Linked DNA regions of Homo sapiens. The protein of the gene in region 1 interacts with the protein of each later gene in a pairwise test. Each region holds a gene or a part of one and is shown on either strand. Other genes may lie near its edges.

Region 1 (7,042 bases):
CGGCTCACTGCAAGCTCCGCCTCCCAGGTTCACGCCATTCTCTTGCCTCAGCCTCCCAAGTAGCTGGGACTACAGGCGCCCACCACCACGCCCGGCTAATTTTTTGTATTTTTAGTAGAGACAGGGTTTCACCGTGTTAGCCAGGATGGTCTCGATCTCCTGACCTCATGGTCCGCCCTCCTTGGCCTCCCAAAGTGCTGGGATTACAGGCGTGAGCCACCGCGCCCGGCGAAAAAATCCTTATAGAGGCTGGGCCCGGTGGCTCACGCCTGTAATCCCAGCACTTTGGGAGGCTGAAGCGGGCAGATCACGAGGTCAGGAGTTTGAGACCAGCCTGGCCAATGTGGTGAAACCCCGTCTCTACTAAAAATACAAAAATAATTAGGCCAGGCGTGGTGGTGCATGCCTGTAATCCCAGCTGCTCGGAAGGCTGAGGCAGGAGAATGGCTTGAACCAGGGGGGCAGAGGTTGCAGTGAGCCGAGATCTTGCCATTGCACTCCAGCCTGGGTGACAGAAGAAGACTCCATCTCAAAAAAAAAAAAAAAAATCCTTACAGAGCTAAAGCACTGCACTCATAAATCAAGACCAGAATATTCTTTTTTTAAAGGAATGTAACTGGGCGCAGTGGCTCACGCGTGTAATCCTAGCACTTTGGGAGGCCGAGGCGGGCGGATCATTTGAGGTCAGGAGTGTGAGACCAGCCTGACCAACATAGTGAAATCCTGTCTTTACTAAAAATACAAAAATTAGTTGGGTGTGGTGGCAGATGCCTATAATCCCAGCTACTCAGGAGGCTGAGGCAGGGGAATCTCTTGAACCCGGGAGGCGGAGGTTGCAGTAAGCCGAGATCGTACCACTGCACTCCAGCCTGAGTGTGACAGAGTGAGACTCCGTCTAAAAAAAAAAAAAAAATCCCAACTTCTCAGGAAGCCGAAGCGGGAGGATAACTTGAGACCCAATCTGGGCAACGTAGCAAAACTCCATCTCTAAACAATTTTTAAAGAATTAGCCAGGCTTGTGGCACATGCCTGTAGCCCCAGCCACTCAGGAAGCTAAGGCAGGAAGATTGCTTGAGCCCAGGAGTTCAAGGTTGCAGTGAGCTATGATCGCACCACTGCACTCTAGTCTGGGTGACAGAGCGAGACCCCATCTCTAAAAATAAAAAAAGAAAGATAAAAATATAAATTTGGTTCTATTAAAATAAAGAGCTGCTGTTTATGAAAAGAAACCATTCAGACAATTAAAAGGCAAAGCACAGAGGGGGAAAATATATTCACAATGTATTTATCTGGCAAAGTGCTCATATCCAGAATATATAAAGAACTCCTACAAATCAATAAGAAAAAGACAAACGACTCAATATGACAATTGTCAAAATGTTTGAACAGAAACCTCACAAAGCAGGATATCCAGATGGCTAATAGCCTTATGAAAAGGGACTCAACTTTATTAGTCATCAGGGAAATGTAAATTAAAGCCACATGGAAAGCAGATCAGTGGTGGTCGGGGTGTGGGAGGAGGAATGACTGCAAATGGGCATCGTGCAATCAGTGCTTGTCTGGGGCAGTGGAAATGTTCTAAAACTGGATTGTGGTGATGGTTGCACAACCATACACATTTGTTAAAAATAAGCTGAGCCGGGCGTGGTGGCTCATGCCTGTAATCCCAGCACTTTGGGAGGCCAAGGCAGGTGGATCACCTGAGGTCAGGAGTTCGAGACCAGCTTGGCCAACATGGTGAAATCCCATCTCTACTCAAAATACAAGAAGAAATTAGCTGGGCATGGTGGCGGTGGGCATCTGTAATCCCAGCTATGTGGGAGGCTGAGGCAGGAGAATCGCGTGAACCCAGGAGGCAGAGGTTGCAGTGGGCCGAGATCACGCCATTGCACTCCAGCCTGGGCAACAAGAATGAAACTCCCTCTCAAAAAAAAAAAAACCCTATAAAAGAACACTCAAAAAACAAGAGCTCTTGGAACTTAAAAATATAGTTACAGAAATTAAAAATTCAATAGATATTTTAGAAGATAAGTTGAAGAGGTCTCCGGAGAGTAGGACACAGAAAGAAAAAGAACCGAAAAATAAGAAAGAAAAGTGTAGGCCAGGCATGGTGGCTCACGCCTGTAATCCCAGCATATTGGGAGGTTGAGGCAGGTGGATCGCCTGAGGGCAGGAGTTTGAGACCAGCCTGACCAACATGGTGAAACCCCATCTCTACTAAAAATACAAAAAATTAGCCAGGCGTGGTGGTGGGCGCCTGTAATCCCAGCTACTAGGGAGGCTGAGGCAGGAGAATCGCTTGAATCCGGGAGGCGGAGGTTGCAGTGAGCCAAGATCACACCATTGCACTCTAGCCTGGGCAACAAGAGCGAGACTCCATCTCAACAACAAAAATAGATAAATAAATACAGTTAGCTGGGCATGGTGGCGCGTGCCTGCAGTCCCAGCTACTTGGGAGGCTGAAGCAGGAGATCGCTTGAATCCGCGAGGTGGAGGTTGCAGTGAGCTGAGATTGTGCCATTGTACTCCAGCCTGGGCAACAAGAGCAAAACTCATCTCAAAAAAAAAAAAAAAAAAGGCAATTATGAACTTCAAAACCATTTGAGCAAAAAGGGAAAAAATAATCATAGTTACTCTGTGGCTTAACTAGGAACACTATTTATATGTGTTACTATTTACAGCCATATCACATTGTTTTAACCAAAGACTACAGACACTACTCACTTAGAAAGAGGCAAGGAAATGTGTGTATTGTGTGGGCAGGGAAGAGAATGTAAGACAGTGAAACCTTCTTACAAAGTCAATAGATAATGTGTGAAATGGCAAAACAAAGAAGTGGAAATATGTCATAGAGAAGAAAACACTAGAATAAAAAGGCACAGCTGGCCCGACGCCGTGGCTCACGCCTGTAATCCCAGCACTTTGGGAGGCCAAAGTGGGCAAATCACCTGAGGTCAGGAGTTCGAGACCAGTCTGACCAACATGGAGAAACCCCGTCCATCTCTACTAAAAATACAAAATTAGCTGGGCATGGTGGCTCAACGCCTGTAATCCCAGCTACTCGGGAGGCTGAGGCAGGAGAACTGCTTGAACCCAGGAGGCGGAGGTTGTGATGACCTGAGATCACGTCATTGCACTCCAGCCTGGGCAACAAGAGCAAGACTCCATCTCAAAAAAAAAAAAAAAAAAATTAGGCCAGGCGCAGTGGCTCGCTCCTATAACCCCAGCACTTTGGGAGGCTGAGGCGGGTGGATCACCTGAGGTCAGGAGTTCGAGACCAGCCTGACCAATATGGTGAAACTCCATCTCTACTAAAAAAATACACTCCTATTACCCCAGCAATTTGGGAGGCTGAGGCGGGTGGATCACCTGAGGTCAGGAGTTCGAGACCAGCCTGACCAATATGGTGAAACTCCATCTCTACTAAAAAAATACACTCCTATAACCCCAGCACTTTGGGAGGCTGAGGCAGGTGGATCACCTGAGGTCAGGAGTTCGAGACCAGCCTGACCAATATGGTGAAACTCCATCTCTACTAAAAAAATACAAAAATTAGCCAGGCCCACACCTGTAATCCCAGGAGAATTGCTTGAACCCAGGAGGAAGAGGTTGCAGTGAGCCGAGATTGCACCACTGCACTCTAGCTTGGGCAACAGAGCAAGACTCCATGTCAAAAAAAAAAAAAAAATTAGCCAGGTATAGTACACGCCTATCGTCCCAGCTACTTGGGGAGCTGAGGCTTAAGGATCACATGACCCTGGGAGGTCCAGGCTGCAGTTAGCCGGGATAACACTACTGCCCTCCAGTCTGGACAACAGAGCAAGACTGTGTCTCAAAAAATAAAAATAAATAAATATATAAATAAATAAAGCTTAGGAGAGAGACATCTGAGCTGGAGATGATCAGCTGGGAGAGAGTGTGGAGATGGTATTGAAATCCACAAGACTGGAGATGACTGAGAGAAGGAGAGGAGAGAGCAGAGGCCCAGAGCAGAGCCTGGGGCAGAGCCTGGGGCTCACCAACACCGAGAGGCCATGGAGAGGAGGAGGGAACATCACAGAGCCTGGCAGAGTGGCTTGGGGAGAGGCCACCCCCCAAGCAAGTGTACAGGAGGCTTCAGGAGGAAGATATTCTGGAGGAGTGGTCGGGGTGGTGTCTATGCTGCAAGTAAGTGGTCAAGTAAGAAGCGGGTGGGACATGGCCAGGGAACAGATAGCCTGGAGACGTGGCCACCTCAGCAGGTGCACTTCTCACGTGTGGATGGTGTCAAAATATATAGAATAGCCATGGCCAAGGAGTGAGAGGGAGTCGAACAGCACCCAGAGAAAGCTTGGAAGCAAGAAGTGGGATTCTGCGGAGCAAGCGTTCAGACAACTACGATGTTTTGCAGAGAAAGGGGGCAGAGAGGTGGGGCCTACAGGTAGAAAGAGCAACCTGTGGACTTCTGGGAAGTTTTTGAGATGTGCGCGAAGCACATTGCATGGAGCATTTTGCCTGGAGCATGTTGGTTGCCAATGGAGGAAGGGAGGAAGAGTGAACAGGGCACAGAGGGGCCACCCTGCAAAGCTTCCTTCCTCACCCACCCCCAGGTCCTGCAGTCCCTAATGGTGCCCCCTCCAGGAAGCCTTCCCAGAGCTCCCAGGCTTGGGCCTCTCCCACCTGAGCCCCAGACTTCTCAGGGGCACCCACACACACACTGTCTATGAGGATCTGTGGGTCTTAGCTTCCTCCCTGACAGCTCCCTGGGAAACAGGCACTGAGACTTACTGGTCTTCATCCGCTTCAGCATCTGCCCGGGGCCCAGGACCTGGCCTGATGCTGAGGTGAGTAGATGAGTTTCAGTGGGTGTTTGTGGGGTCAGTAAACAAAGGTGTGGATGGACAAACGGGCAGACGGACAGGCCACTACAAGTCACTAACATCCCAGAGCCCATACCCCAGGCCCTAGGTCTCCACATCTCATGGACCTGAGGCCCGCTTTCTCCCTGCCCCGACCCACCTTGGGATCCAAATCGAAGAAGCTGTAGTACTTGAAGCGCAGCCAGAGTGCGTCCCCGGCCTTGATGCCCTGCTGCATGAGACACCGCGACGAGTCCAGCCACCTGGGCCGCGGCAGAAGCAGCAGTCAGGGCTGCGCCAGGTACGGCCGTGGGGTGGGGAGGGGGGCTGGGCTGGGGGGACAAGCACACACAGAGAAAAGGCCTGGAAACGAAGTGTGGATCTGGGGTGGGCACAGACACGGGACAGGGGGTGGATCCTGGGTGGGGGAGCCCTGACACAGGGGGCGTGGCTCCTGGGTGCACCTGCTGTGGAGCTGGGTCTTGTCTGACAGGGAGCTGGGCCGTGGCAGACGCTGGAGCAGGAGGGGGTCGGGTGGCGGCTGGGGCCGGCTCAGCATGTGGTAGCAGGCCTCAGTCTGGGCGCTGTCCGAGAAGTGAGCTGGCATCCCCCGGAACAGTGCAGGTGCCACGCCTGGAGTGCAGGTTGGGAGTCAACCAGGCCTGTCCCCCAGGGCTGGGACTCACGGGCCGGCCCCTGCCCCCAACCCCCCAGGCCCACCCCCACTTGCACTCACCCCCAGCCAAGACAACCTTGCTCAAGTCATAGAGCTCTTCCTCTGGCTCCTTCTCTTTCTTCTTCTTCTCCTTCTTCTCAGGAGCCCGGAGCAGGGACAGCTCCTCGGGGTGCCGGATGCCTGAGGGGAGCTAGGGTCTCAGCGGGGACTAGGTCCTGCTGCAGCCTCCCCACCTCACCCATGGGTGCTTGGGGCGGGTCACAGCCCTGCAGGCAGGGTGGCAACCCAGACAGCAAGGACAGCGTCAACAGAGCTGGGCCTGGAAACGGGGGAACCTGCCTCTTTGCATCACCCTCGTGGGCCAGGGGAATCAGCCGGGCAACTTACTGAGGAGGCGGCAGATGGCAGCCACAGCCTGGAAGAGGGGCTGGGAGAAGCTGGCACGGAGGCGCAGTGCGCGGCGGTTGGGCAACCGAAGGATGACGGGCCGGTGCTGGGGCCCAAAGAAGAGGCGTGCGTCGGCCAGGATCCCGTACTTGTCCAGTGTCCAGTGGGTCTGCAGCAGCCACTGCCTCTTCTGTTCCCACCAAATAGCATGGTCTGACCAGTCCTGCTTGCGATCTGTGGGGCACGGGGGCACATCTGGGTCCAACCTTCCTCCCTGGTGCCCCCAACACCCAGCACAACCCCAGGATTCAGAAGCCTGGGGCGACCACTCCCCTGCCCTGCCTAAGCCAAGAGTGGGGCAGCCTGGGCGGGCCTGGGGTCTACCCCATGGTAACAGCAGCAGGGCTCTCTGCAGGCAGCCCCTGATTTGGCCTTCTAGGCTTGGCTTCTATATCGCTTCCCAGGGGAGCTCTCCAACCCAGCATCTGAGTGCCCCAATCTTAGCGCCCCATCTCTTGCATTCCAGCCCACTGGGCTCCCTCCACATGACGCCCCCTCTGTCCTCCCATAATCCACGGTTTAACAGCCTCTGTCTTGCATTCTGGGGAGCTCCTGGAGGCAGAGACTACGTCTGTCTCACCGTTGTATGTCCTCAGGGCCTGGACCTGTGCCTGGCCTGGAGCAGTGAGCACTCAATATTTTTAGCTATTAGCTGTGTGACCTTGGACAAGCCACTTAACCTCACTGGGCCTCAGTTTCCCTGTAAGATACAATAACGATCTTACAAACTGGGACACGGAACAAGGCCTCCCATGTGGTAGCTGCAGGGTTTGCAGCAAACTTGTGCACGCACATGACGATCCATGAGTGAGCATTGAATTAGAGATGTGCGTCTGTCCCTTGTCAGCCAGCTGGGAACTGGAGTTACAGTAATGGAAGGCACAGGTCTCCCCGCCTCCTCCCTCCAGGAGCATGAACAGGTGGGAGAGAGCATAGGAAAAAGGCTGCCGGAAAGCTGCTCTGGGCACACAGCCCTTGAGAGTTTGCAAAGCCCTGTTTCCTGAGTTCCTCCCAGGTCCTCCCGGTGAGTTTTCTGATTCCCACTGCATCCCACCCACCTCAGCCAGCCCCCAACCCCACT
Region 2 (5,528 bases), on another chromosome or scaffold:
GGAGAATCACTTGAACTCGGGAGGTAGAGGTTGCAGTGAGCCGAGATGGCACCACTGCACTCCAGCCTGGGCAACAGAGTGAGACTCCGTCTTAAAAAAAAAAAAAAGAAGTAAACATGGCAGATTAGCATCCAAGATGGAGTTGCATTAGCCTCCACAGTCCCTGTGCAGTTGTTTGAATTGCAAAGTGAACCTGCCACTTTTTTCATAGATCACTATTTTTACTTGAAAGAACAAGGTATCTACCACTATGACCTTAACAGCTTCCCAAAACTTAAAGGCTTTTCTGATGGATCAGTTTTTTTGTTTGTTTGTTTGTGAGATGGAGTCTCTCTCACTATCACTCAGGCTGGAGTGCAGTGGCGTGATCTCAGCTCACTGCAACCTCCGCCTCCCAGGTTCAAGGGATTCTCCTGCCTCAGCCTCCTGAGTAGCTGGGATTACAGGCATGTGCCACCACGCCCAGCTAATTTTTGTATTTTTAGTGGAGACAGGTTTTTGCCATATTGGCCAGGCTGGTCTTAAACTTGTGACCTCAGGTGATCCACTTGCCTTGGCCTCCCAAAGTGCTGGGATTACAGGCGTGAGCCACCACGCCCAGCCAGAATGTGAGTTTTTGATATTGCACAATGAAATGTGCCAACATTCTACAAACTCAGTGAACTGATATTTTCCAAATGAGCAGTGCATGTTACAAACCATGCATAGGTAAAAGATCCAACTATAAATAGATAAACCTGTGGGTTTTAAAGTTCATTGGTATGGTTTCAAATCCCACATTGCATTTAACCTTTAAGAAACTACCATTTGTTGAGTATTGATGTGGCATCAGAGAATAATATCCACAGCAATCCAAAAAGACTGTTAAAATACTCCTTCCTTTTCCAGCTACATATCTGTGTGAAGCTTAATTTTCTTTATATCCTTCTACCAAAACAGCATATCACAATAGACAGGATACAGATGGAGATATGAGAATCCAATTGTATTCTGTTAAGCTACACATGAAAGAAATATGTAAAGCTGTTGAGCAGTGCTACTCTTCTGAGAATTTTTACTTGTTTTTGAAAATTTAATTTTTCATAACTATATTAACTTGGATTTATTATTTTTAGTGAATTAATAAATATATTTTTAAAATTTTCTCAGTTTTAATTTCTTTTTTTTTTCTTTTTGAAAATATTTTCTTTCTAAATAATAGAGATGAGGTTTCACTATGTTGCCCAGGCTGGTCTCCAACTCCTGAGCTCAAGTGGTCCTCTCACCTCAGCCTCTCAAAGTGCTAGCATTACAGGTGTGAGCCACTGCGCATAGCCCTCAGCTTTCATTTTTAATAAGTTAAAAACAAAATTTGTTAGACTCTTCAGTAATTTTTGAGAGTATAAAGGGTCCTGAAACCAACAGGTTTGAGAGCCACTTCCACATCACACCTGTTGTCAATGGTAGGGACTGGTTCACTAGATGCCTAATGGATGTATCTCAGCAGCAATGTGAAAAGAAAGGCCTTCGAGTGATACTGAGTAAGGTGGAAGGTGTTAGCCACCAATGCTCTTCTTTCCCGGGTGTCTCTTATGCTCTGGAGGTTTCCTATCTCTGCCTTCTCATCAAAAGATATCTGGCCCGGGCGCGGTGGCTCACACCTGTAATCCCAGCACCTTGGGAGGCGGAGGCGGGCGGATCACTTGAGGTCAGGAGTTCAAGACCAGCCTGGCTAAATGGCGAAACCCCATCTCTACTAAAAATACAAAATTCAGCCGAGCATGGTGGCACATGCCTGTAGTCCCAGCCACTCGGGAGGCTGAGGCAGGAGAATTGCTTGAACCCAGGAGGCAGAGATTGCAGTGAGCCGAGGTCACACCACTGCACTCCAGCCTGGGTGACAAAGTGAGACTCCATCTCAAAAAACAAAAAAAAAGACACCTGTGCTGAGTCCTGACTCAGTCCCAAGTCCTTAGTGGGCAGACTACCTCATGTCATACATTAATAAATATAAGGTAGGCTGGGCACGGTGGCTGATGCCTGTAATCCCAACACTTTGGAAGCTGAGGCAGAAGGATCACTTAAACCGAGGAGTTCAAGACCAGCTGGGGCAACATGGCAAACCCCATCTCTGGAAATTAGCCGAGCATAGTGGTGCACATCTGTGGTCCCAGCTACTCGGGAGGCTGAGGTGGGAGGATCATTTGAGCTGGGGAGGTCAACGCTGCAGTGAGCCATGATTGCAACACTGCACTCCAGCCTGGGTGACAGAGCAAGACCCTGTCTCAAAAAATAATAATAATAAAATACATATAAGGTATAACATTTAATTTGACCGGTACTTATTGAGCACATTTTAGACATGCTGGGCATTGTGCTGGAGATAAGGATACAATGATTAATTAGATCTGGACCCTTCCCCCTAAGAGATTACAGTCTAGTAAGGGATCTGGCTGGAAAATGTCTCTAAGAATGAGATAAGGATATAACAAGTAATATTTATACATTTAAAGAAGATTTGTAATACCTTTATATAAAAGAGTGAGTCCAGTGTGGATTTTTTTCATTAGTGAAGGAGAAAGAGTGGGTCAAATGCCCCTCTTTGGAGTCCCTAAAACCACACCAGCTATGGGGATTCACTAATGCCCATCTTCTCTTCTTTCAGGCCAATGAACTTCCGGCAGAACTAACCAAAAATGAACGTATATTGCGTCTCCTGAGAAGTAAAGAAGGTCCCAGAAAGAGCTAACTTAGCTCCATATTTGACAGAAAGATAGAAAGCTTAACCACATTGTCCAAAAAGAAATTGCATTTCAAGCAGTGTTGGAAATTCTTTTATGAAAAAAAAAGATGCCCAGAATGCCCATCCTGTGGGTCCCTGACAAAGAAGAGCTACGCTCTGTGCACGAAGTCAAGAACCAAACAGCTCAGGGACCCTCTTGCCCCTTCACCATGGACTTCTCATGGTGTCCTGTAACTCATCTCCCGGGGGGCCTGGCATGTTCACAGATTCCACAGAAACTCATTTTCAACAATGCTAACTTGGACCTGTCAGTTAAACTCTAAGGTGGACAGGGTTCTCAGTACTAAGCAAGGAGACAGAATGCTTTGTTCCTTTAAAAGACTGAAAAGCTGACCTTCAATGGATTGAGGCACTTTTGCTTTTGTGTTAAATGTAGATGTGCTAAAATATATAGATCTATCATATTTTACCTACATATGTATGTCATTCCAGTATAAAACATTCTCCTCTACCCAAGAACCATAGCCATGATTGTTATAAATCAATGAAGTGTAAACATACATTATTAAAAAACCACTTCTGACATTCCATTATGTGCTATTCAAAGATGGACTATTGAACTATAGAAAAGACAGACTGTGCATTTGTTCGTTGATCCTCATCTTATTCCTGACATGTAAAAATCAATTTTACGTAGAGTCAACATTGTAGGTAGGTTAAAATACCAGTGGCAAATTTGGAAATTCAGAAACTTATAAACCACGAGAAATATATAGGCTTGTCTCTTTGGTCTTTTATTTTGGCTCTATTGTTGGGAATCTATTTCCTATTCTATAAGTAAGTATACCTAACATGCTGTGGAATCTTGAGTTTCCAACACCGTGCTGCTTGATAGAATGACTTTGAGGTCCTTGGATAAAATGTGATATATGCAAGTACAGTATGTTGCTATTACTATTGCAGGAATATAAATAATAAAAGACTGTTATTAGCACTTAGTAAGTCTTCATCTATGCATGTTTTTGAGTTGACTGATTCCAAGAATGAAATATGAGGTTTATTGAATTATTCCTTTGAAAGGGATCAAAACTTATATTCAATGCACTTTATAATTAATGGTGTCTAAATGCCTCAGTCAGTGCCTAACTGCACATACAAAAATAAAACCTTCTTTCTGTAATCTACCAAAATAAACGCAATGGTATTTCTGCTATTTAAACACATCTTTAGCTTATTTCTTCATGTTCTGCTCTGGTTTTCAGTCAGTGTCTATGTAAAGACACTTTTAGAGGAAAATGTTGTAATCCCAAAAGAATTTTTGTTTAACCAACTTTCAGAGTTACTAAAAGGATTATCTTTAATTCAGTAAATAATAGAATATAATCTTCAAAATTAGAAGATATTCTCTTAAAATTTATAACAATTAATGCAACAAAAATCAGCATATTTTGATAAATGTCTCAAGCAAATGAGCAACTCACAGGCCCCACAGGTGCCTACAGCCTGACCAGCTATACAAAAAGCCTGCAACCTGATTCTAGGATAAAATATTAGAAAGCTCTCTGTTGCTAAAACATCCAGATATAAACATTTTGGTGGCTAAAATCAATGCCATTTCCTCATTGACATTCTTTTATTCAGCAAATTTGTACAAATATACATTTTCTCCTGTGCGAATTTCAAAAAGCTATATTCATTTTGAAGAGGAAAATAATATGGCATTAAATGCTTTGTATTTTCCCCTTAGTTAGCCCTTATGGCAAAAATAGTTGCTAATCACTGATACAAAGCAAAACGTTATGGGTACTGATAACAAAGTTCCAAAAGCCAAAATGGGATGAATCACAAACTTACTGTTTTTCACTAAAACATGTAATTGGCCTATTACATCAATAGTTTTAAGTGGGTAATGTTCTTGAACAATATTAGAGCCATAAAATTGAAGCCAGTAGCTTGAACAATATGGAGGCCTTCTTACTGTAGGGAAGAGGTGTCTAGCTTAGAAGGATCACATTTGATCTAGATGAGATTACCCATAGCAGGGAAAATGAATCATCACCTACCAAAGACTGTACGGAAAGGTGTGTTATTTTCAAAATTGCATTTTAGTTTGCACACATGTAAATGATTATTCTATGTTAATCTAATTGACAATTCAGTTAGCTCCGCATCCTAAGACTTAAAACTAGCAATTCCTATGCAAATCATCTGCTTAACTGAACTACAAACGTTTTTCATTAATTCATTCTTTGATGACATATTCCATGTTATATAATAATTCAAAATAAAGTTAATATACTACCCCATTTGCCTTTGCTGCTTTTTTCTTTTTGTTTTTAATCAAGAGTTATTGCTATGTGATTTTTAGTAGCATGGAATTTTAGGGTGAATAATTCAACTCTGTAAATATATTGATATTTGGGACCCTAAATAGATATTTAAACTTTATTTTAGTAATGGACCTATGATTTCATTATCTCTGCTGTAGAGAATGAAATGATTCCAAAAAGTTTTCATTCAGAAAAGAATTCTTGGGACAGTTATTTAAGATGCTGAAAATAGAAAATTTTCTGATTTGTATTATTTATGATGCTCCTGGCCCTTTAGTCCTTTGCAATAACTTTCTCTTGTGAAGTAGCTGGTGGTTTTGCAGAACTGTTGGTGTAGGAGACAATAATTTGCAGCAGTAACATCAGGAATATGGAGATTTACAGGAACATCCTGGCTTCCATCTGCTCCATCCACCCTCTGCCGCCACAAGAAAGCTACGTCTCTTCATAAATCCCACACTGAGACACCTACTCAG

What was found. The genes of interacting proteins can lie anywhere in the genome.
Region 2: the proteins of FERMT3 (region 1) and ANKRD29 interact in binary tests that used the Homo sapiens proteins (3 or more experiments, as listed by UniProt).

Annotation. Positions count from the first base shown.
Region 1 is NC_000011.10:64,209,704-64,216,745, reverse strand, and holds part of FERMT3 (fermitin family homolog 3 short isoform), read right to left. Parts: intron 6,136-7,042; coding exon 5,902-6,135; intron 5,695-5,901; coding exon 5,575-5,694; intron 5,472-5,574; coding exon 5,303-5,471; intron 5,102-5,302; coding exon 4,999-5,101; intron 1-4,998. UniProt on the Homo sapiens protein: Plays a central role in cell adhesion in hematopoietic cells. Acts by activating the integrin beta-1-3 (ITGB1, ITGB2 and ITGB3). Required for integrin-mediated platelet adhesion and leukocyte adhesion to endothelial cells.
Region 2 is NC_000018.10:23,598,426-23,603,953, reverse strand, and holds the end of ANKRD29 (ankyrin repeat domain-containing protein 29), read left to right. Parts: intron 1-2,644; coding exon 2,645-2,728; 3' UTR 2,729-5,028; downstream 5,029-5,528.